Linked DNA regions of Homo sapiens. The protein of the gene in region 1 purifies or fractionates together with the protein of each later gene. This does not show direct contact. Each region holds a gene or a part of one and is shown on either strand. Other genes may lie near its edges.

What was found.
Region 2: the proteins of NTRK3 (region 1) and ATP2A2 purify together in Homo sapiens (affinity purification with mass spectrometry; one large-scale study listed by BioGRID and IntAct). This does not show direct contact.
Region 3: the proteins of NTRK3 (region 1) and PTCD2 purify together in Homo sapiens (affinity purification with mass spectrometry; 2 studies listed by BioGRID and IntAct, with this or other methods). This does not show direct contact.
Region 4: the proteins of NTRK3 (region 1) and DNAJA3 purify together in Homo sapiens (affinity purification with mass spectrometry; one large-scale study listed by BioGRID and IntAct). This does not show direct contact.
Region 5: the proteins of NTRK3 (region 1) and ITM2B purify together in Homo sapiens (affinity purification with mass spectrometry; one large-scale study listed by BioGRID and IntAct). This does not show direct contact.
Region 6: the proteins of NTRK3 (region 1) and INPP5D purify together in Homo sapiens (affinity purification with mass spectrometry; one large-scale study listed by BioGRID and IntAct). This does not show direct contact.
Region 7: the proteins of NTRK3 (region 1) and TBC1D24 purify together in Homo sapiens (affinity purification with mass spectrometry; 2 studies listed by BioGRID and IntAct, with this or other methods). This does not show direct contact.

Annotation. Positions count from the first base shown.
Region 1 is NC_000015.10:87,861,740-87,865,239, forward strand, and holds part of NTRK3 (NT-3 growth factor receptor isoform a precursor), read right to left. Parts: 3' UTR 1-3,500. UniProt on the Homo sapiens protein: Receptor tyrosine kinase involved in nervous system and probably heart development.
Region 2 is NC_000012.12:110,287,747-110,291,246, reverse strand, and holds part of ATP2A2 (sarcoplasmic/endoplasmic reticulum calcium ATPase 2), read right to left. Parts: intron 1-3,500.
Region 3 is NC_000005.10:72,326,873-72,330,372, reverse strand, and holds part of PTCD2 (pentatricopeptide repeat-containing protein 2, mitochondrial), read right to left. Parts: intron 1-3,500. UniProt on the Homo sapiens protein: Involved in mitochondrial RNA maturation and mitochondrial respiratory chain function.
Region 4 is NC_000016.10:4,439,368-4,442,867, reverse strand, and holds part of DNAJA3 (dnaJ homolog subfamily A member 3, mitochondrial), read right to left. Parts: intron 1,494-3,500; coding exon 1,293-1,493; intron 601-1,292; coding exon 448-600; intron 1-447. UniProt on the Homo sapiens protein: Modulates apoptotic signal transduction or effector structures within the mitochondrial matrix. Affect cytochrome C release from the mitochondria and caspase 3 activation, but not caspase 8 activation.
Region 5 is NC_000013.11:48,260,706-48,264,205, reverse strand, and holds part of ITM2B (integral membrane protein 2B), read right to left. Parts: intron 3,068-3,500; coding exon 2,982-3,067; 3' UTR 1-2,981. UniProt on the Homo sapiens protein: Plays a regulatory role in the processing of the amyloid-beta A4 precursor protein (APP) and acts as an inhibitor of the amyloid-beta peptide aggregation and fibrils deposition. Plays a role in the induction of neurite outgrowth.
Region 6 is NC_000002.12:233,205,873-233,208,403, forward strand, and holds the end of INPP5D (phosphatidylinositol 3,4,5-trisphosphate 5-phosphatase 1), read left to right. Parts: intron 1-833; coding exon 834-836; coding exon of another isoform or gene 837-885; 3' UTR 886-2,031; downstream 2,032-2,531. UniProt on the Homo sapiens protein: Phosphatidylinositol (PtdIns) phosphatase that specifically hydrolyzes the 5-phosphate of phosphatidylinositol-3,4,5-trisphosphate (PtdIns(3,4,5)P3) to produce PtdIns(3,4)P2, thereby negatively regulating the PI3K (phosphoinositide 3-kinase) pathways.
Region 7 is NC_000016.10:2,473,946-2,477,926, reverse strand, and holds the start of TBC1D24 (TBC1 domain family member 24), read right to left. Parts: upstream 2,801-3,981; 5' UTR 2,757-2,800; intron 1-2,756. Other genes in the region: NTN3 (netrin-3 precursor), read right to left, coding at 3,822-3,981. UniProt on the Homo sapiens protein: May act as a GTPase-activating protein for Rab family protein(s). Involved in neuronal projections development, probably through a negative modulation of ARF6 function. Involved in the regulation of synaptic vesicle trafficking.

The DNA.
Region 1 (3,500 bases):
CTAGACGCGCCCTTGAAAATTTTAGGAATTTTTTCAGAAAAAGTACTGAGAATCTTTATAAAATTGTATTCGCTGGCCAGTTCCCTCCTGGGGCTTCTATTGGCATCATCTCTCCTTCTAGAGATGCCTGCTCTGCATCTCTAGTCTCAGGCCACATTTCCCCCAGCCAGCAGATCGTTCCTCCATTAGCAGTCACTTTGCAGCTCCTTCCCCTCTGTTCTAAGGGAAAATAACTTGTATTATTAAGCTTTCCTATCCCCATAGGTCCTTTCTGTACATATTATTTCTAAACTTTTTAAATATGGGAAGGTTCCTGGATTAAAATATAAGACAAAACTCCTCTATTCTAAAGAACTCTAACAGAGGTGTTGGATGCTGCTCACCTCCAGTCTTCATACAAATAATCTAGAGAATCTTGTGCCATGGCCTTTTTTGCAGGGCAAGTGTGAGCACTGGAATGAGATTCACTCAAGAGGACAAGGAATGGAAGGAATGGATGGCTACATCTTAGACCCACTCCCAAGTTAGAAATCATCGTTCCACTGAACTTGCTCCTCTGAGATCTGGCTCTGTCCTACTTTTTCCACCTCATTTATTCCTAAAAGAAACCCCTTATTTTCTTACACCACTAAATGTTATGGATGTTATGATAAGCAACATGGAAAGGGAATGGAAAGAAAGGGATAAGATATAGGGGAAATTCAGAGCCTTGGATGGTACAGAGGCATTCAAAATGGAGGTTTTCTAACATCTGTCAGATAGAAGGCAATATTTATGATGAAACCTGCAGTGACTGACTTGCCTTCCCAACACAGGATTCATCCTGACATGAGTGGAGAAGATGCTGACAATTAGTTAAGAGTAGACAATGATGACTCTAAGATGATATCTGTGTGTCATTGTGCTATATAAAAACTGGCCAATCACAAAGCAATGTGACAACATGTGCTTCTGCTACCCTTGTTTTCTCAGTACACCCTTCAGTCTGGCCTGAAGAATGCCACAAGGAGTCATTTGCATTCTTATTGTGATTGTTTAAGGCAAAAACAGCTGTTAAAGAGCACTCAGGGTTGAAGGGTGGATGCTGAGAATCAGAGAAGTGCCCCCAATGAGTCTCCAAAATGAATAACAGCAGCATCACTGGGACCTTTTCTGTCCCCAAACTTCATAGCTTCTGCTCAACTGCTGTGAAACATTGCCTCCAGATGCACACTGAGTCAAACATAGACTTGTACATTGTGAGAAATGTGCAGAAATGTTAAAAGGAAAATGATTGTGTATAAGCAGTCCTTCATTTAGGGGTTTACAAGTCAGTGGTATGTTATAAAGACTTGTGTAGGGGGAGCCTACTCTAAAGCATGCCCTTCAAATGAAGTCTAGTGTGTTTCTTTCTACTTCTCTGAGCCAGGAGAGCTGGGAGTGTTACTCCAAACCCATTTGTTAGGAGGTCAAGAATGTGACAGAGACAGCTAAGCTAGGCTTGGTAATAAATGAAAGATGTAAGAACCTTAAGAATAAAGTCTTCCAAGTTGAGGCTCCGGTAGATAGGAAATAAAGGAAAACAAAACAACTGCCCTTCCTAGTCTGGGAGGTCAATCAGGATAGCGGGCCCCTTCAATTCAGGGGGTTGTTTGCTGTCCCTGGTGCTGAAAACATACACCCAGGCTTCGCTGCAGAATTTACACTCTGGGATGCGAGAAGCAAGAAATCCCGCTTATCAAACTAAATACTCTTTCAGCAAAGGCTGATTTCAGGTGACAGGCCTCAAAACATGTTCCAAAAGTCTTTTTTTTTTTTTGTATGTGTGTCATTTCAAACAAAAATAGCCCTGAAGCAACCCTAGTTTTCCTGTGGAACAGTTAATGCGTGCCAAAGTACTGATGTGGTAGCTCTCCCAAAATTCCCTCATGTTATTCATGAACCTTAAAACCTTGGAAAAGAAAGATTGTAAACAGATGCACCATTGGGGTCTACAGTCCCCACCTACTGATTTCTTTTTCTGATACCAGTTGCAGACAATAATTTATATGGCTTGCTATGACTAAATGTTTCTGAAGGAAATATTTGGGTAAAACTTTGCCATGAACTGCAACATGGGCCTCTGAATTCCTCTCCTTTCCTAATTTTATTGTCACATTCTGAGAAAATAAACAGGGCATCTATTATGCTAAAGAGAAAGTATAAACTCATAAACAACTACATTCTATCTGCCTTTAACCCCCCACCAGGCAAAATACACACACACACACACACATACACACACACACACACACACACACACAGAATCTCAAAAAGTAAAGTCTACCTGAGAAATAACATGAATCTTCCCCCAACAGTACACAAATCTTTGCCAGAGAGAAGAACACTGCTATTTTCTTTCACATTCAGAGTGAGAATTTTCTTGCCCCAACTTGCTTTCCTTTCATTTTAATTTGACAGTTCCTCAAGCTAATCCACCATGGCCCCCACATAAACAAGAAGAGTTCTTGATGCTGTGAAGTGAGAGAAAAATAACATGAGTCATTTTCTGTTGCCTCCACATCTGATAGAATTGGAGGAGCCTTTACTTTGGGATATGAATACAATCAATCTTTTCTAGCCTGGAAAAGGAAGTATCCTAAGAAAGGCTAAACTCTCAGAGAAGGGGCAGATGGTGAGAAAGCATTGAAATAAGTTCTTGTTGTGCCTGTTAACATATCAGGTCAAACTTTCTCTACCTGGTGAGTTATTCCCCAAATGATATCTCTGAAATCCTTAAATAATCAGCCTTGTCTTTAGGAAGTTATATAGTGAAATGAGCTTGTTCAAGGAAGGCTTTAACAGTACTGTGAAGGAGGTCATCCCCTCCAGATTATCAGAATAAATTATGAAACTTCACCCTGAACCAGTGACTAAGCCAAATAGATAAAGCATCCCCCTGTCTCCTTGTATTTTTTAGAGCATTCTCCATGGCTAGATACTCAAAGTGAAAAATGCTAATGGCAAAACTTCTAAAAAACAGACACCAGCAAAAATTTAAGGAAGATATGCCTCAAAACACGTCTCAAAAGCGGCTCTCAGTCTCTCAGCTCAGCACCCAGCAAGACTGCATGCAACTGCCCAGAGAGTGGGCTCTATTATTTGTCTGGCCCTGTACAGTTCACCTTCTCCAATTTCACATCATAATTTAAAATCTCAGTGGTAACCCAATTTGGACTCTCATTTCGAAAGCTGGGATGCTTTTTGTCTACTGAACAGTAGTCCGAAACAGAGGTGTTGCTTTTCTACACAAGAAAAACAAAAATTGAGCCCAATCTTTTGTCATCAAGATTGCCTCTGTATGAGGCAAAAGTTAAAGAGAAAAGAGAAGCTGAGAGAGCCTGAACTTGAGCAAAATATTTGTGAATTTTCTAGGATTTGGGGTATGCAGCTTTATTCTGATTTCTTTCTGGAGTGATCAAAATACTTTTAGAAAATCATGTATAGCATTTTGTCAGATACACTGCAAGTGATTGTTGCTT
Region 2 (3,500 bases), on another chromosome or scaffold:
GGGCAACAGAGCAAGACTCGGTCTCAAAACAAAAAAAAAAGCCGGGTGCGATGGCTCACGCCTGTAATTCCAGCACTTTGGGAGGCCAAGGCGGGGGGATCACCTGAGGTCTGGAGCTCGAGACCAGCCTGACCAACACGAAGAAACCCTATCTCTACTAAAATTACAAAATTAGCAGTGTGTGGTGGTGCATGCCTGTAATCCCAGCTACTCAGGAGGCTGAGGCAGGAGAATCGCTTGAACCCGGGAGGCAGAGGTTGCGGTGAGCCAAGATCGCACCATTGCACTCCAGCCTGGGCAACAAAAGCAAAACTCAAAAAACAAACAAAAAACTATACTTCATGGCTGGGTGTGGTGGTTCAAGTCTGTAATCCCAGCACTTTGGGAGGCCGAGACAGGTAGATCGCCTGAGGTCAGGAATTCGAGACCACCCTGGCCAACAAGGTGAAACCACCTCTACTAGAAACACAAAAAATTAGCCAGGTGTGGTGGCGCACACCTGCAGTCCTAGCTAGTTGGGAAGCTGAGGCAGGAGAATCGCTTGAACCTGGGAGGCAAAGGTTGCAGTGAGCTGAGATCGCACCACTGCACACCAGCCTGGGCGTTAGAGCAAGACTCAGTCTCAAAAAAACAACTATACTTCTTAAAAATACCTTATCTTTTGATGTAATAATTCCATTTTAGAATCCAAATAAAATCTGGGGAGAGGGAATAAATTCCATTCATTTTATATGTATCTATTTAGAAAAAATAAAACTTCAATTCTTGATTAAAGTAAAAGGTGATCATCTAACAGTCATGTTCATTTAGTTATTATTCATATCAAGTAATATCCATGTGACATAAATCCACAGTATAAACAACTTGATCACTGACTTAAATTTTAGAGCATATATAAACTGTTTAATTCTAGGCCGGGAACAGTGGCTCATGCCTATAATCCCGGCACTTTGGGAGGCCAAGGCAGGAGGATCATTTCATGCCAGGAGCTTGAGACCAGCCTGGGCAACATAGCGAGACCCTCATCTCTATAAAAGAAACAAAAAACCAGTTAATTCCCCGTTTCTTTTCAGTGGTACTACTGAAGGCTGTTTCAGAACCGCAAAGCTGTTGGGAGATCCGAAGTGTATTTTGTAGGTTATCCTCCATATGACATTTATACAGCAACACAGCACTTCAGAGATAACCTAAGTCCAAAAATGTAACTGGTCACAGAACACTGCCCCAAGAAAATGGGGCAGAGGTTTAAACTTTTAGCTCATACAACTATAAACTTGTTAAGATTTAAAAACTACAAAGTAAGAGTCACACTGCACTTCCCAATCCAACAACTATAAACGTGGTAAAAAGAGAGAACTCACCACAATGAATACTAAGAATAATGAATATGGTAAAGAGTGGTCTATGTGGTTAAAAATTTAAAAACCTCTTTTTGTGGAAACTTACCAATCCAGAAACAGTGTTAACCACATCTAATGATTTAATCTTGGAGGTCGAATTTTTTTTAATTAAAAAATTGCTTAAAATGTTTGCATATTTCATAATAAAATCTTCTTTAAAAGATCTACTTAGTAAATCATGAAAACACTCCTCCAAATGATTTATGGCAATAATGAATCCAAATGACTCATTAGAAGACGGCATGAATAAGAAATATCTGTTTGAGCAGGACAAAAAGAAAAATAAAAACAGGAGGCACCAGGACCACCAAGTCCTGACAGATGCCAATCACCACCAACGTCCAGTGAGCTAGGGCAAACAGACAACCAGAATGAGTATAATAAATGTTACTGTATGCTTTCAACAGGGCATTCTAGTGTTAAGGCCAGGAATAATGCCAGAATGAAAACTTCTCTAGGAAGTTATAAATTTTGATAGATGCAGGATCACAGCTGCTCTGATACTAGACTTTCAAACATTTGCCAAGGAGAGCATATCAGAAACAAGAAACTTTAATTAGCTCTTGGGGGAGAAAAATCGCTCAACTTGAAGAGTAACTATGACCTTTCCAAAAGGTCAGTGAGGCATTAGCAACTGTAAGATAAGCTTCACACCTTGTTAAAGTGGGTATGAATTTCCCTCTTGGCAGTAAAGCCTGGGGAACAAACTTAAAGCAACATCCCCTGATAGCTAGAGCAAAGGGAAAGACAATGGCAAGCAGTGATGGGACCATCAGAGCAAACCTCTACTTTAAAATACTACAGCCCAAAATGAAGAACAACCATATCAGATCATGTCGGGCAGTCCTTCACAGTTCTGATCTATTGGTAAGAAAACCTCTTGCCTTGTGTAAGGAGAAAGAGGATTGACAACAGAAACCATGAGACTGGGAGGGAGATGGGGTAAGAGAAAGGGGAGGAAAACTGGATGAGTGACATTACTGAAACGCAAGATCCCTTACTGCAGTATTATAGTACTATAGTAATGTGAGTTCATAATTATGGTTTGCCAGAAGTTATACAAAGTATACTTATACAAGGAACTGGGAAAATGTTTCTAAAAATTTTGACAACAGGTTGAATATAAAGAATTATCTGTTTCAAGCCAGGAGCAGTGGCTCACACCTGTAATCACAGCACTTTGGGAGGCTGAGGTGGGCAGATCACCTGAGGTCAGGAGTTCAAGACCAGCCTGACCAACATGGCGAAAACCCATCTCTACTAAAATACAAAAAATTAGCCGAGTGTGGTGGTGGACGCCTGTAATCCCAGCTACTGGGGAAGCTGAGACAGGAGAATCGCTTGACCCCGGGAGGCAGAGGTTACAGCGAGCCGAGATCGCGCCATTGCACTCCAGCCTGGCTGACAAGAGCAAAACTCCATCTCAAGGAAAAAAAAAAAAAGAATTATCTGTTTCAGCTGGGTGAGGTGGCTCATGCCTATAATCCTAATGCTTTGGGAAAATCTCTTAAGGCCAGGAATTGGAGACTAGCTTGAGTAACATAGTGAGACCCTATGTGTATAAAAAAAAATTTTTTTTTAATTAGTTGGGCATGGCAGGGCATGCCTGTAGTCCTGACTACTCGGGAAGATTGCTTGAAACCAGGAGTTTGAGGTTATAATGAGCTATGATCGTGCCACTACTACATTCCAGCCTAGGTGACAGAGTGAGACTCTGCCTCAAAAAAAAAAAAAAAAAAAAAAAAGGGCAAAGCATGATGGCTCACACCTATAGTCCCAGCTACTTGGGAGGCTCAAGAATCAGGCTTCAGCCCAGGTGTCTGAGGCTGCAGTGAGCTATAATCGCACCACTGCATTTACCCGCTGGGCGACAGGAGACCCTATCTCCAGGAAAATTGAAAATTTTAAACAGTGTGTAAAAGGATTATCTGGGCTGGGTGAGGTGGCTCATGTCTGTAATCCCAGCACTTTGGGAAGCTGAGGCAGGCGGATCACCTAAGGCCAGGAGCTGGAGACCAGCCTGGTCAACATGGAGAAACCCCGTCTCTACTAAAAATACAAAAAATTACCCGGGCGTGGTGGTGCATGCCTGTAATCCCA
Region 3 (3,500 bases), on another chromosome or scaffold:
GCTAAAAATCATCGAGGAGTCAGAGTAGTATTACGCTAGTCTATTCTAAATGCATATACTACAATGATACCATAATAGAATGATGAGGTGTACTTTGATACATTTCATTATCCACTTATAGAAGTTACAAATAGGCCGGGCACAGTGGCTCACACCTGTAATCCCAGCACTTTGGGAGGCCGAACCAGGCGGATTATGAGGTCAGGAGATCGAGACCATCTTGGCTAACATGGTGAAACCCCGTCTCTACTGAAAATACAAAAAAAAAAAAAATTAGCCGGGCGTGGTGGCGGGCGCCTGTAATCCCTGCTACTTGGGAGGCTGAGGCAGGAGAATGGCATGAACCCAGGAGGCGGAGCTTGCAGTGAGCCGAGATAGCACCCCTGCACTCCAGCCTGGGCGACAGAGCGAGACTCCATCTCAAAAAAAAAAAAAAGAAGTTATAAATAATATTCATTGCTTCATTACAACACTTATAAATTAAGTTTTTGGAAGGCAATATAGGATAGTGGTTAAGGGTTTTCAGGCTCTGAATCCAAACTGATCATTCAAATCCTAGCTCTTCTACTTGTGTGATGATGAGCAAATTAATTAACTACTCTGTGCTTCCGTCTCCTCATCTGTAAAATGGAAGGAAGAAGAGAACCCAACTCAGTTTTTTTGTGAAGATTAAATGAGATGATGTGCCTGGCACACAAGTCTTCAACATATAAATCTTTATAAAACGTAAGGCATGCTAAGGAAAACATCTTCAAAAATCAACATATTTCAGTAAATATTCTCATGAGAAACTTGTGCCAGATTAAAAGCAAAAGAAAGCAAAAAAAAAGTTTCTGATTTGACATTAACATGCTAAATGACATTCACATTAATAAAAGTGCTAGAAAGTCACTGAGATAATGAATTGCCTTCTGGACAAGAAATGTTCAAGAGGGTCTAAAATCCCTCAATAAACCAAACAGCATTTGGTCAACATAACGAGGGTATTAAGATGCTCCCCATTTTTGGCTCAATAAAAAGCTTATGTTTCAGCTCGTGACTCTCCTTTCCCAGCCACGGGCTGCCTGACTCAGGGAGAAAGAGAACATGTTGGTGGAGCCTTGGATCTACCCATCTTTCCACTTGTCCGGCTGTCTACAAGTAGAGAGGGAAAAGGTCAGCAACTGGGTAGAGATTTATTAGCATCAGTAAAGGAACTAAGTCATACTTTGAATATTTATGATAAAAATAAGAGTAGAAAGAGTGTTCAGGATATTTATCTCATTTTACTACTCTTATAAACATTGAATAGCTTTGTGTAGTAAAATGAGAGGAAAACATGCCAAAGGGAAATGATTTAACTTTGTGAAACTGAAATACGGAATTAAGTTTGTAGATACAGTGTGACTTTAAATTAGCATAACACTTTTGGAAAATAATCTGACAGTTATATATTGATAAACTTTAAAAAGTTCATACCCCCTGATCCCCAAAAGGAAACAAAGAGTAAGTTTTATGCAGCGAGTTTCTCATCATGACATTATTTATACTGGTGAAATATTAGAAAAAACTTCAATGTCCAACAATATGGGCATAGTTGATGAAAATACCTAACATATAATAAATACTGTATTGCCATTAAACTATGATTCCTAAGGATATGATTAACATGAAAATATTTATATTTAGAAAATAATTACACAGCAATAACTATAACAATGTAAAGCAAAATCTACCAAAACAATGAAATCTTTACATCTGTGAAAAAAAAAAATGCAAAAATATTAACAGTGGTTTCTTAGATGGGAGCAACAGGCCCCAAAGATGGCTGCCATCAATTTCTTCCCTCTCTGTATGTGCATATGGCTCCATCCATCCAGAGGTAGAATCCTTTTCCCCTCCCCTTGACTTTGGTCTGGCCAGGCAACTTGCCTTAACCAAGAGAAGCCATGCCAATTCTGGGCAGCTCTATCATGCCTGGCAGCTCCCATCTGGGCTGTGGGCCAGTGCAGCTCAAACCAACAAATGAATAATGAGGCACTCCAGAAAGACAGGGAGAGGCCACATGGAGGAGCAATGAGGCATCACAAACTCAAGAGAGGACTTCTTGGACCATGTAGTACAGCCCAGCTACCAGCTGACTGCAGATGAGTGAGTGGCTTCATCTGACACCAACCAAGAACTGCTCAGTGGAGATGGGCCTGAATTCCTGACTCCAGGATTATGAGAAATAATAAATAGTTACTGTGTTAAGCCATTAAGTTCTGGTGTGGGTTGTTATACAGCAACAGACAACTGAAACAGCAGAATTTGTGACATATTACTTCTCTCTACTTTTTGGTGTTTTTCAATTTTTCAATGAATTTTTTAATTTTTACTTAAAAAAAGACATTTTTTTCATGTTATAAAATTAATGTCCACTGTAGACAAGTTTGAGAAATCAGAAAAATATACATTTAGATAAACAAAAAATACATAATCCATAATTCCTAGAGAACCAGTTAACTTTTGGTAGAGAATCTTCCAGTATTCTTTATATGATTATCTTGTATTTCTCTCTATAAATGTACATATAAATACAGGTTCATATATAGAAACAGATCTTTTAAAAATGGAAAGGAGGGCTGGGCGTGGTGGCTCATGCCTGTAATCCCAGCCTTTGGGAGGCTGAGGTGGATGGATCACTTGAGTCTAGGAGTTCGAGACCAGCCTGGCCAATATGGCAAAACCCACTCTCTACTAAAAATACAAAAATTAGCCGGGTGTGGTGGCAGGCACCTGTAACCCCAGCTACTTGGGAGACTGAGGCAAGAGAATTGCTTGAACCTGGAGGTGGAGGTTGCATTGAGCTGAAAGATCGTGCCACTGTACTCTGGCCTGGGCAACAGATCAAGACTTCATCTCAAAAAAAAAAAAAAAAATAGTTTAAAAAGAAAAGGAAAAGAGCAATGAATTTAATTTCAGAAATGAAGTCTGTTGATTTGATGTCATACTGCTCCCTGGTAAGCGAAGCCTTTGCTGGCTTTCCCAGTGGCAGGCTATGCTTACATGCGAGTTCTTTCTGACATGGGAAACTTTAATAACGGATCAGAAAGGTATAGCAGGACTGGAGGAGGGAAAATAGGAGTCCACTGAAAGGATTTAGGTGAGAGACATTAAAGCGTGAACTAAGACACTGCTAACGGAGATAGAGAGAGGAAGGCTAGAGCTGAGGGAGATACCAAGGAAGTAGAACCAAGAGGATTTCTTACCCTATCAGGAAAGAGAGGCAAATGACATGAGAGTAAAGAGGCTCCAAAATATCTGTCCTGAGTGACTAGCCAGTGAGAAGGAAAACAGAAGAAGAGGAGTGAATTTGTACATAATGAATTTGAAGACCTAGGGGATATGTCAGTGATAGGCTGGTAACTTCTTTAGACATAAAATATCTGCTTTTCTATCCTTAGCACCCAGCATATAGTAGGAACCCAGTAAGTGTGTGCTCAACAATAAGTGAATGTAGGTGTCTGGAGTTCAAGGTA
Region 4 (3,500 bases), on another chromosome or scaffold:
AGGGCCTCAATCTGTTCATCTGATTTTCTAGAACACACAAACTTCTGCACTCCAGATCATCAACTTGACCACACGACACTGAAAAATATGATACCGCCTGTCTACAGAAGTACCTGAAGACTCCTGGGAGCTGAACAGTACATTTAAAAAAGATTATTTCCCCTTGAATTACCAAAGCAATTGTTAGAAAAATAAAGAAGAAAGTGACAACTGGATGCAATCCCCCGCCCCGCCCCCGGAGCTGCTGTGCTCTGGTTGCTGAGCCTGTGGTATCAGGGAAAGAGGAGCACAGGCTCGTCTCCTCAGGGTCACGGGGGAAAGACAGCCAGGCTGAGTTCACCAACTCCCCCAATTCCCAGCATACGTTCTCTGGGAGCAGTGCCACAACCAGCTCTTCTCAGTCAGTGGTGCAAGCCGTGGGAGGTGGAGTCTCGGGCAGAGCCTTACCATGCCGGAGCCGCCACAGTAGTGGCAATGCTGCACCTTGGTGCCGGGCTCGTTCCCCTTGCCGTTGCAGCGCTCACACGTGTCCATGATGTTCACGGTGAACTCCTTGTTGACCCCCTTTGCAGCTTGATTGAATGTCAACTCCATGAAGTACTAAAGAAACCAAGGGACAGCCTGTCAACTTTTGTTTGCAACGACCAAAACTGACGCTCGGCTCTAAAGGGAAAGGAGGGTACTGGCCCACATTTTCAGTCACTCTTTCACCACTGTACTTACTTGCACTCTGCCAAGTAAGCATAGGTAGGACTCACTGAACGAATTCTGCCCTACTCTTTGGGATTTTTAAGAGATAATGTATGACTTAAATGAAAACGTACTTTCAACAGACTGAAAATGTTCACAGATAAATACTCGTACATGGCACTTAAAAACAGCCTGAATGATCCACAATCATAATTTAGATCATAAATATATCCCCTCTCTCTTCCACTCTGACAGTGTCTTATAAGGACATAAATGAGAGAGGATCAGCAGTGCCTTCCCACCGGACAGAACTCTCCTGGAATACTGTAGCAGATGAGAGACAACACTCACACCCTCATGGGCTCTGAAAGCCTTAGGTGCTACCTCATTATGCAACTGTTAAGAATACCATCAGAATGGACATACTCATTACTACCTATGCGATTTTTCAAATACTGAAATTATTTTCTACTAAAATGGCTGCCTCCAGATCACTCCATTTAAGCTGCCTTGCCTTTCTGAGAAACAGAAACTGATAAAAAAATTTGTTTGACCCATACTTAGTCTAAAATTTGAATAATTCTTCCAAGTGAGGAACTTACTTCCTGAGGCTGATCAAACACGGTCTGGAAATCTCCAAATGAAGAGGATGAGAACTCGCCAAAGATCTTCCTGAACAGCTCCTCGGGGTCCACAGTGGGGCCTCCCTTCCAGTAGCTATGCTGGGAGCCGCTGGCCCCAGGATCGAAGCCTGCAGAGCCGTAGGCATCGTACTGCTTCCTCTTCACCTCATCACTCAAAACCTACAGTGAAAGGCAGAGCCACTGGGCATCCCAGGTCTACCAAGGCCCAGGAATACAGACAAGAGTTCACAGCAAATAAGGCAGCCATAACATTTATTAAGTGGCCCTGTGTGCAAACACATCCTATGAGGTTGGGGTGGGCCTGTGACTAGCACCTAGAAGAGGGATGAGATGACCAAACTGAATGCTAAGTGTAGGGCGTGAAGTGCTTCCAAAAGTCTCACGAACTCTCCCGCCGTCGCGCATGCTGGGAAAATGTTTGTGTTGATCCTCGCTTGACCTCACAGGCACCCTGGATTCTTCACAGATTCACACTTCACCTCTCTCCTCAGGGGACATTACCTCGTAGAGAATTTATGCTTCCTACCCTTACCTTCATCGAAAGGTTTTCTGCAAGCCAGAACAACCGGAGTAACAGAAGTAACAGCAACGACAATAGCAGTGGTGCAATCCTAGCTCACTGCAGCCTCAACCTCCCAGGTTGAAGCAATCCTCCTGCCTCAGCCTCCACAGTAGCTGGGTCTACAGGTGCACACCACCAGTCCTGGCAAATTGTTTTAAGTTTTTGTAGAGACAGGGTCTTGCTATGTTGCCCAGGCTGCTTTCAAACTCCTGGCCTCAAGCGATCCTCCCACTTCGACCTCCCAAAATACTGGGATTACAGGCATGAGCCACTGGGCCTGGCCCACAAAACTGTTAATAAGGACTAACTACCTCAAAAAGGGGGATTAGGGAGGGACAAGGAAAAATGTAGTATTCACTTTGTATCTTTTTTTTTTTTTTTGAGACGGGAGTCTTGCTCTGTCGCCAGGCTGGAGTGCAGTGGCGCGATCTCGGCTCACTGCAACCTCTGCCTCTCGGGTTCAAGTGATTCTCCTGCCTCAGCCTCCCGAGTAGTTGGGACTAAAGACATGCACCACCACGCCCAGCTAATTTTTTTGTATTTTTAGTAGAGACAGGGTTTCACCACGTTTGCCAGGATGGTCTCGATCTCTTGACCTCGTGATCCGTCTGCCTCAGCCTCCCAAAGTGCTGGGATTACAAGCGTGAGCCACCGTGCCTGGCCCTCACTTTGTATCTTTTTTTTATGTGTTTGTCTTACTTTTTTTTTCTTTAATTAAAAAGACACTGCCCTAGGCTGAGTATGGTGGCTCACACCTGTAATCCCAGGACTTTGGGAGGCCAAGGCAGGTGGACTGCTTGAGTTCATGAGTTCAAGACCAGCCTGGGCAACATGGTGAAACCCCATCACAAGAAAAATACAAAAAAATTAACCAAGAATGGTGGTGCACGCCTATAGTTCCAGCTACTTGGGAGGCTGAGGTGGGAGGATTGCTTGAGCACGGAGGTTGAGGTTGAGGCTGCAGTGAACCGTGATTGCACCATTGCACTCCAGCCTGGGCAACAAAGTGAGACACTATCTCAAAAAAATAGGCACTATCCTTAAGGCCAAACAGAAAAGAGTACGCTTCCTCCAAAGGAAAAGACACTTCCACCTAGAATGGAGGGGGACTAAGAAAGCAGGTGGAGGACAGCTTGGTGCCTAGGGTAACTTTTAGGGCACCCAGTTAAGATGCAAAGGAGGAAGGCTGGCAGAGGAGGAGTCAGGTGGGAGTTCATGACTTCCTGGTGGGTTTTATCTCCTGGTTCCAGCCCTTCCCAAGGAATTGCTGCTCTTAGGTTCTGAGGCTCGGTCCGTTTAATAACATCCCCCTTGAAGACAGAAGTCAGCAACACGGTGGATTAGGACTCTCCAAAACTCATGCCCCTGGCAGAAACATCAGATCAACTAACCATGTGGAAAAACACATTCACAAGAATAACACCCCCCCGCCCCATTAAAAATTGAATCTTCTGGGTGCAGTGGGGAACCTGTAGTCCCAGCTACTCAGGAAGTTGAGGTTGAGGCAGGAAAACTGCTTGAGCCCAAGAGTTTGAGACTGCAGTGAGCTGTGATCTCGCCACTACACTCCAGCCTAGGTAACAGAGTGAGACCTCAACTCTTTT
Region 5 (3,500 bases), on another chromosome or scaffold:
TCAACAACTGTACAGAGCTGTATGAAGCATTTTCATGCCTATTATTTTAATTCTCAGCCACCTCTTAAGCCAGATTCTCCAGATTCTCACTCCTGCATCACAAAAGAGCAATCACGGCCAACAACTTGTCAAGATTTATATAGTCTCATCTTGACTTCTGTACTTTTTTTTTAAACCAATGCAATAGGGGCAGAATGTGTTGCAAAGCAGCAAACTAGAGCTATCTTAGATAAATAAATAAATACACACACACACACATATGATGGGGTGCATTATGGAACTTGCTATGGTTTGAATGTTTGTGTCCCCCCAGAATTCATGTTGAAATCCTTACCCCCAAGGTGACAGTATTAGGAAATGGGGCCTTTGAGAGGTGTTAGGTCATGAGAGTGGAACCCCCATGAATGGAACTAGTGTCCTTGTAAGAGGAACCCAGAGTCATCTGTGATATAAGGTCACAGAGAGAAGAGAGCTTTCTGTGAGGAAGGAGGACCTCATCAGACACTGAATCTGCAGGTGACTTGATCTTGAACTTTCCAGCTTCTGGAACTGTGAGAAACAAGCTTCTGTTGTTTAAAGCCACTCAGTCTATGGTATTTTGTTATAGTAGCCCGAATGGACTAAGACAGAACTCAAGAAGAGGGAAGGATAGCTGAGTCTCCCTGGAACCCACTGGGAGACCTGGCAGTCCTCTCTGCATGTCTGATTCTCTGTCATCTTCTCATCCACATCCCTCACCCTCTGGTTTTTCCATGCCACACCAAGACCACAGTTTCCAGCATGGCACAAGGGTTCAAAGGGCACATTATTCATTCAGCCCTAGAATGAATAATGAGCCTGAAATCTCAGTTGGAGTTCCAAAATTCCTGGGACATGACTAAGCTTAGGTGAGAGGGGTACTCTCTACTCAATTGACTCTAAAGGAAATTATCAGAATAGTACTGGAAATGAAGTAAAATCATGGGTACCATGTTAGACCAATCTGGCCAAATCAATGATTGCAAATGTTGTGAAGAATTATCAAATGTTTTACTAAGATGATTATACAAAAACCTTTAAAAATTCAAATGAAAGAATTACATTTAGTAAAGTGTAAGTTTGGGTCCCTGGGAGTCTGGAGGTTGCCTGCCATACTGGACTGTGATGAAAGCATATTCCTACTGCATGAAGCCAGTGAGATGTTGGGATTATTATTGCAGTTCAGCTACCCTGATACTGCATTACTACTATAATCAACAGGAAAACAAACTAATAAGCTCCTTCCAAAATGCAAAACTTCAATAGTGGCCCATGGTCTACAGAATGAAGTCCTCAAGATGACATACATGGTCTTCTTCCATGACCTAATCCCATGCACTTCACATTCTGAAAGTCTCATTGACTCTCCTAAATGTTTTCCAAAGAACCTAGACCTGTTTTTCTCCCTCACACTACTGATCCCAATGTATTGTAATGAGTTGTTTGCTGTCCCTCTCTTTTCCTAGATTGTGAGTCTCCACGACGGCAGTGGCTTTTTTTCTTCTTTGCAGATATATCTTCAACACAATATCATATGTTGGGCATATAAAAGATGCTGAATGAATAATGTGCTCCTAAATGTTCACAGCTCCCTGAAAATTCATGTAATTTTAGAGCCTGGAAAGTAGGAAAAACCAATTCTCATTTTATTGAAACATATTGTCTTCTAAAATTGTTAATTCCTGAATACCCAACTCACTGACTTAAAGTTCTGACAATATTACTGAAATGAAATGAAAAGCCATGAGTAAATAATATCCTTTTGAATTAGAATTGGTTTCTAGACTAAATCCTTTAAGAGTTGGAAGCTTTAAAAACTCTGACCTCCTAAAGTCAGAATTGAAATTTTTTGTCTTAGGAACTTGAGGTGAAATGAATCATAGGTATTTTATTAAATGGGGGTGGATTCTGAATTATTTCAGAGAGGAAGCAACCTTAGAAACATAAAAATCATCATTATTAACTCAAAATGTTCCACTTGTGAGGCGGGCATTCTCAGAGAAGCACAGTTATTTTACGTTCCTTGGAAACTTTAGGCTTTGATTGCCTTTCCATCAAAAATAAAAGCATTTTATATTAAACAACATCATTCAAGGTTGAGGCTTAAATGTTACTTTAATAGTATCCACAAAGAATCTGGTTTAGTTATTAAAATGACTTATTTTTATTTAAAGAAAAAATCTGTGATTTTACTCATTGTATATATAGAAGTGAATTTTTAAAAAATAGTTTCTTCTTTTATGTGGATTCTCTTAAGATTTGAAGAACCAAACTATTCTTTGGTTTTATTATACGGGAAAAACAACACGCAGTCTAGTTAAACAACTTTGTGATATTTATATTCCATTGCACAGATATGGGTTATACAAATTAGTAACACAAGTTATTTCTTAAATTCCAAACATTTTCTAAAATATTATTACAGCAGATGCCTAGGATATTAAAACATAAAGGTGGAAATCATTCTCTAAATAGTTAAATATATTTGACACTGAAAATACTGCACATTTTAATTAGAGGAAAATTAAAATGTGTGCTCAAATGCACTAACAAACTAGGTAGCAGGGCAACTAACAACTACAAATAAGTCACTGTGGTCCATTTTTACGTATGCATATATATGATTATTCTCTAGATAATCCGTCTTCTTGAAAATGCTAATAAAACATAAAAATCCAGATAAATGATTTAAAGAAATTGTAATTCTTCCTACTACCTAAGGTGACATGTACTATTATCTATGACTTCATACAGTTACTAATTCAAATATAAAAGACACCACACTTCGAAAGAAAAAAATTTTAAGGTAATGGTTTTAATTGAATTAATGAGATGAAAAGATAGTAAAGCCCTGTTTGCTACTTACATGAAAGAAGACTTTAAAAAATAATCACTGCACAAAATGTAAAGGGTGGGGTTATGCTGTGATATTAATTTTCCTCAATAATGTTTTTCTTGACTGTTCAAGAACAAATTAAAGTTTCCACGGCAAATTTGTTTTCAAAATGCCGAATTGCGAAACAATTGCTGGCTTCACGTTTCTGAATACCTGTTGGAGAGGGAAAAAAGTTTTTTAAAATTTTGATTCTTTAATAATAAATATTCACATCATTTTTATAGTTATTATTTAGACATATAGAAGTATTTCACTCTATATTCCACAAAAACTTCTACAGTTTGAATGTTTACACTGAAGAAAAGTAATTTTTCTCCCTTTTCTGAACCAAGTATTAATATCTTGACAGATCACAGCAACATTAATAATGCTATCCAGACTGCTTACAAATTCATGAACTTGAAGGTATTGAAAATGTTCTGTATCTTGACTATGGTGGTGCTTGCAAGACCTTGTGTATCTTTGTGGAAACTCAGAGTTGCACACTAAAAAGGGTAAATTTCATGGCACGTGTAAGGCTGACTTTAAAAAAAATTATGAACCAAGAGAATTTTAAAATGTAAGAAATCAACACAGCAATAAAAAA
Region 6 (2,531 bases), on another chromosome or scaffold:
GTTCAAGACCAGCCTAACCAATATGGTGAAACCCTGTCTCTATTAAAAATACAAAAATTAGCTGGGCATTGTGGTGTGCACCTGTAATCCCAACTACTCGGGAGGCTGAGACAGGAGAATTGCTTGAACCCAGGAGGCGGAGGTTGCAGTGAACCGAGATCGCAACACTGCACTCCAGCCTGGGCGACAGAGTGAGACTCCATCTCAAAAAAGAGAACAGTCAGGCTATGTTGGATTTGAATCCCAGCCCTCCCACCTCCTGGCTCTGTGCCTTGAGCCTCAGTTTACCCATCTGTAAAAAGGGGCTGTTAATAGTACCTACCTCATAGACTTAGAAGGAGAATTGCATTGTAGGCTATTATGTATTATTACCATGTATTATCATCTATATAGAAATTATATATTTATATTTATGTATTTACATTGATATCCATTACATATCATTTCATATATATATACTATACATATTACATATGTGTATATATTTTATATATATATATGGTACGTACCTGGGTGTGGTGCCATGCACCTGTAGTCCCAGCTACTGGGGAGGCTGAGGCATGAGGCTAGCTGGAACCCAAGAATTCAAGGCTGCAGTGAGCTATGATTGCACCACTGCACTCCAGACTAGGCAACAGAGTAAGACCCCATTTCTAAAAAACAATTTTTTTAAATAAGCAGGTAAAGTACTTAGAGCAGTGAGTGCTGGCTCTTCTCAGCTACACGTTAAAGGAAGCCTGGCCTAGCCCACAGCATGCAGGGACCTGGGCCACTTAGTTCAACATGGCCTGGTGAGAATGAGCCCTGACAGCCCTTCTGTTCTTGTCCCACAGTGAAGCCCTCAGTGAGCTGCCACTGAGTCGGGAGCCCAGAGGAACGGCGTGAAGCCACTGGACCCTCTCCCGGGACCTCCTGCTGGCTCCTCCTGCCCAGCTTCCTATGCAAGGCTTTGTGTTTTCAGGAAAGGGCCTAGCTTCTGTGTGGCCCACAGAGTTCACTGCCTGTGAGACTTAGCACCAAGTGCTGAGGCTGGAAGAAAAACGCACACCAGACGGGCAACAAACAGTCTGGGTCCCCAGCTCGCTCTTGGTACTTGGGACCCCAGTGCCTCGTTGAGGGCGCCATTCTGAAGAAAGGAACTGCAGCGCCGATTTGAGGGTGGAGATATAGATAATAATAATATTAATAATAATAATGGCCACATGGATCGAACACTCATGATGTGCCAAGTGCTGTGCTAAGTGCTTTACGAACATTCGTCATATCAGGATGACCTCGAGAGCTGAGGCTCTAGCCACCTAAAACCACGTGCCCAAACCCACCAGTTTAAAACGGTGTGTGTTCGGAGGGGTGAAAGCATTAAGAAGCCCAGTGCCCTCCTGGAGTGAGACAAGGGCTCGGCCTTAAGGAGCTGAAGAGTCTGGGTAGCTTGTTTAGGGTACAAGAAGCCTGTTCTGTCCAGCTTCAGTGACACAAGCTGCTTTAGCTAAAGTCCCGCGGGTTCCGGCATGGCTAGGCTGAGAGCAGGGATCTACCTGGCTTCTCAGTTCTTTGGTTGGAAGGAGCAGGAAATCAGCTCCTATTCTCCAGTGGAGAGATCTGGCCTCAGCTTGGGCTAGAGATGCCAAGGCCTGTGCCAGGTTCCCTGTGCCCTCCTCGAGGTGGGCAGCCATCACCAGCCACAGTTAAGCCAAGCCCCCCAACATGTATTCCATCGTGCTGGTAGAAGAGTCTTTGCTGTTGCTCCCGAAAGCCGTGCTCTCCAGCCTGGCTGCCAGGGAGGGTGGGCCTCTTGGTTCCAGGCTCTTGAAATAGTGCAGCCTTTTCTTCCTATCTCTGTGGCTTTCAGCTCTGCTTCCTTGGTTATTAGGAGAATAGATGGGTGATGTCTTTCCTTATGTTGCTTTTTCAACATAGCAGAATTAATGTAGGGAGCTAAATCCAGTGGTGTGTGTGAATGCAGAAGGGAATGCACCCCACATTCCCATGATGGAAGTCTGCGTAACCAATAAATTGTGCCTTTCTCACTCAGCTGTGTGTGTGGCGTTTTTCCTGACATTCGGAGCCATAGATATCCTTCTAGATGGCAGGGCCTGCACAGGGCACAACTGAGGCAGTTAAGGGTTCATGGTGGTGATGGATGGTGTTGCCCTGACCAGATGGGACACCATAGAGCCAGTTTGAAGCTGGTCCTGGACTAGGAACAGGAGTAAACCGCACCCCTTCCTTCCTTCCACCCACACATCTTCCTGGCACTCCAAGCACCCTGCGGCCACCCAGAGGCCACGAGCATCCCCTCCAAACCTGCTGTCCTGCAGCCCACAAGTTCCTCCCAGCTTTTATAAGTTTTCACCACTTAAGCTGCAGTGACAAAAAAAACACGTCAACACTCCCCAGGTCATGGGTTCCCAGGTCAGGGAGTAGACCCCCGCCCAGAGGCACAGTGCGGGCCACTTCCACGGCGCCTCTGCCCCACCTTGGGCTGCCTGGCCTCTGCTTCTGCTCACAGACACCAGGCCTGGGCTCCAGGC
Region 7 (3,981 bases), on another chromosome or scaffold:
TTCTCCCAAGAGCTGGTGGGCAGGAACCACGCCTGTCACTTTATATCCACTGTCCCTTCGGGGGAAGGCACTTTCCCTCACTTGTTCTTGCCGGTCCTGATCATCCTTCAAAATGAAGCTCAAGTCCATCTCAGAGCCCCACCCCCACCACAATCCAGCTGGATGCCACGCCTTTGCGCCCACAGAAGGCTCTGTCCACCTCTGTGGGAGCTTCTACCATGTGTTTATTCTCCTGTCTCCTCACTGCACTATAAGCTCAAGGGCAGAGACCAAGTCTTAACACCAAATCCACAGAACACACGGCATGGTGCCTCCTATGAAGTGTGAATTCAATAAATGCATTTTTATTGTTTTGTTTTTCAGAGACAGGGTCTCACTCTGTTGCCCTGGCTTGAGTGCAGTGGCACAATCACAGCTCACTGCAGTCTTGAGCTCCCAGGCTCAAGTGATCCTTCTGCCTCAGCTTCCCAAGTAGCTGGGACCACAGGCACATGCCACCATACTTGGCTAATTTTTTATAGAGACGAGACCTCCCTATGTTGCCCAAGGTGGTCTTGAACTCCTGGGCTCATGCGATCCTTCCACCTCAGCCTCCCAAAGTGTTGGGATTGCAGGCGTGAGCCACCGCACCTCGCTTAACAAACACATGTTGAAAGGATACAGAAAATCATTGAATAATGAATTCAAGTTGGTCCTCAGTAAAAAGCCTGAGGTTTTGTTTCTTTGATTTTATCTCCAATTGAAAGGCAATGTTTGAAACAGCCACTGAAATTGCTGCTTTGAGTTGAAAAGGACTTCTTTCTTCCATTTACAGAGTTGTCATAACAGAAAAGGTATGCTCAGACAGGTAAAACATTGAACAGGGTAAATGTTAAGTGCTTTTTTTGTAACCTGCTTCATTGTCCTTATGTACTTTAAACCAGAAACCATCTAAAGGCAAACATTTAATATGTTTTCTGAGCTTGGCTCAATCTGTAGATAATTAAGAGCAACACTGCATGCCCAAGGTCACTCGAGCCTGCTGGACACTCCTGGCAGGTGTGGTCAGCGAGAGCTAGTAAGGCTACCCTACAGGTGACTTCACAGACCCTGGGTGGCCAAATTTATTGTTGTTATGAAAACCTTGCCTAGATTACTTCTGCATCTCGGAAGGTCACCCTCAACCCAGTGGAAAGCCACTGCAATAGTTGACATCTATCACTCCGACAAAAGGACCTTGATCCACTTCAACCATCATGTAGAGAAAACCTCTGGTCCGGCCCTGGCCAGGCTGTGGGGAAGCAAAGATGAACAGCGTGGCTCCCGCCCTCTTCACAGGGAAAGACAGGCTTCTAAGTAGAGCAAGCACTCCCCAATAAGTCCTCCATGTAAAGCCTCTATCTGAGTGTTCAGATTAGATGAGGATCAACCCTCAGAATAAAAGGCGGTGCACGCAGGGGTCACGCCACAGGCTAGGAACAGTAACTGTAAAATCTTCGTAAGATTTTCTGATCTTCTCTAATCTGGATTGGTTTTTTTTCCCAGTGTGTGTTCCTTAAAATGAAAAGAACCTGACTGCTTGTCTTCGCCGCAACTGAGCAAACATTTACAGGTGCCTACTGTGTGCTGAAGACAGAGCCCTGGCCCTCGGGCGGAGGAAACGCCACGTGTGCCATCTACAGGTGCCTACTGTGTGCTGAGGACAGACTGTGAAGACGGAGCCCTGGACCTCGGGTGGAGGAAACGGCCCACGTGCCAAATAATGGGACGGTTCCTTCTGCACACTGCCTGGAAGTCACCTGGTGACTCCAGAGCAAACACAGCAAAACAGGGAAAAATCACCCGCTAGTGCTTCTATCGGCACTGGAAGGGCAGGCTGACGCCCCCTTTCTGGAATAAGCTGCTGGGTAAAGACAGTGACATCGGCTTCACAACCACAGCCACCAACCTAACAGCCCACCTGCACCTCCACACCACCCAGGTGGCTTTTAGACAACCTTTGACCTTTAATATCACCCCCGCAAGCAGTAACCCGGGGGCCACAGCGCGTTTCCCTGCGGGGCACGGCCATCAAAGAAGGCCTGTGGCCAGGCCGCGGGGACTCCCGCCTGGAGGGGGCGGGAACAGGTGCAGCCCAGCCCAGGTGGGGCCGGCTCTCCCCTCCGCTGTGCTGGCTCAGGGCTGGGAGTCCCTGGCTTCCACCTCCCAGGGCCCGAAGGACAGCGGCCGCCTGGCACGGCGCACCCAGAGGGGCCCCCCACTGGACAGGGCCGGGGGCTGGCGGACCCCCAAGCGGGTGGTCGGTGGGGGCGTGTGTCATCCCTGGGCGGGGCGGGGCGGGGCCCGGGGCCGCTGCAGGTCCACAGGGCAGGGCGTATCAGAATCTGTTGCAATCTCACCGAGCCCCCAAGAGGATTTCCGACCCTGCGGAGACGGAAAGCGCCCCAAGGAAACAGTGACACAGTCACTCTTCCAGACGACACCATGCCCTGGGCCGGGCCGCGGGCCAGCGACCGGGCGGGGATCGGGCCTCGCGCCCAGGGGGTCCCGCTCCTGCGCCCCCTCCCGTAGGCCAAGCCGCAGCTGCAGCGCCGGGCGGTGCCGGGCTCTGGAGCCCCCAACCCGCGCGTGGCCGGGGATCCCCGCCTCGAATGGGGCCCGCAGCCCGGCCCCCACGCTCCCGCCCCCAGCACGCGCCGACCGCGGTGACAGCGGGGACCCGGCCCCGCCACCCGCCACCCCGCCGCGCGCCCCCCGCACGCCCCGAGCGCACCCACCTCCGCGCGCCGCTTTCTCCTCAGCCTGCCGCGCCGGCCTTTCTGCGCACGCGCGTGCTCGGCCCCGCCCCCGCCGAGCTGTCGCCCTGTGCCCACCCCGGAGAGCCCGCGGGGCTCCGGCCTGCCCGGCTCTGGGCATGCGCGCTGACGGTCGGCGGCCGCAGCGGCGGAAGCTGGGGCCGGCCGGGAACCGGTCCCGTGCGGAGAGGAGGCAACGGCAGTGCGGTCCCGGGGGGACAAGCCAAGGGGGGCGGGGGGTGGCACGGCCCTGCCGAGGGCATCGGGGGCCCGGACAGCCGCCTGTCGGAGTCGCGGTCCGGCCGGGTCACGCGTGGATCCGGAACCGCGTGGGCACGACGTCCCTTCCCGAGTCGGGGGAGAAGGGCTGGAAGGAGGTTCTGGGACGGGCCCTGAGCTGAGGAGCTGTGGCGCCGAGGGTCAGAGACGCGGCAGAGAGAGGGACGGCCGGACGGAGCCGGCAGACGGGGACACAGGCGGCCAAGAAAGTTACGGGACCCGGCAGCAGACGCCGCGGGGCGCCCGGACGCGGACGCCCAGCCCGCAGGGGCCAAGGCCGCCGCCCTCGTGGGGCTGCAGGAGGCAGGGGACGCCCTGTCCCCCCATGGGGGTCCAAGGCGCCTGCGGTGGCCACAGTCTTTGGGGAGGTCAGTGCGCTCCCTGGCGGGTCGCCGCACAGGTGGGGGTGCATCACAGCGGCCCCGGGGATGATCTGAGATCCCCGAGAGGGCCCGGCATCACGAAGGATTCACAGCCTTCCGGGTATCCCAGTGCCCCTGGGACAGGGCCGACAGCCAGAGGGCGGGAGACCATGGGGTCCTCCGGGTGTGCCATATCATCTGCCTCTGTGCGGGGCGGGCTGTCGCTGCGCCGGTCACATCCCCCCAGGGCCAGACGGGAGGTACCGAGGGAGCTGCCGGCGGGGACGGGGCGGCGGCCCAGGTGGCGACACGCGCGACGCGAGCAAGGACTCCTTGGCAGGCGAAGGCACAGGGTGAACGTGCGCCTAGATGTGGGAGCAGCGGCCGCCCTGCCCAGCCGGCGGGCTCAGGCGGCGCTGCAGCGCCCCCGCCGTTCGCGTCGCTGCAGCCTCCGCAGGCGCCGCGTCCACGCGTCCCTCCAGGGTAGCACGAGGCTTCCGCGGGCGGCGATGAGCCCGGGCCCCCGGCCCCCCGCGCCCCCAGCCGCGGCTCCAGGCCCGCCCCCC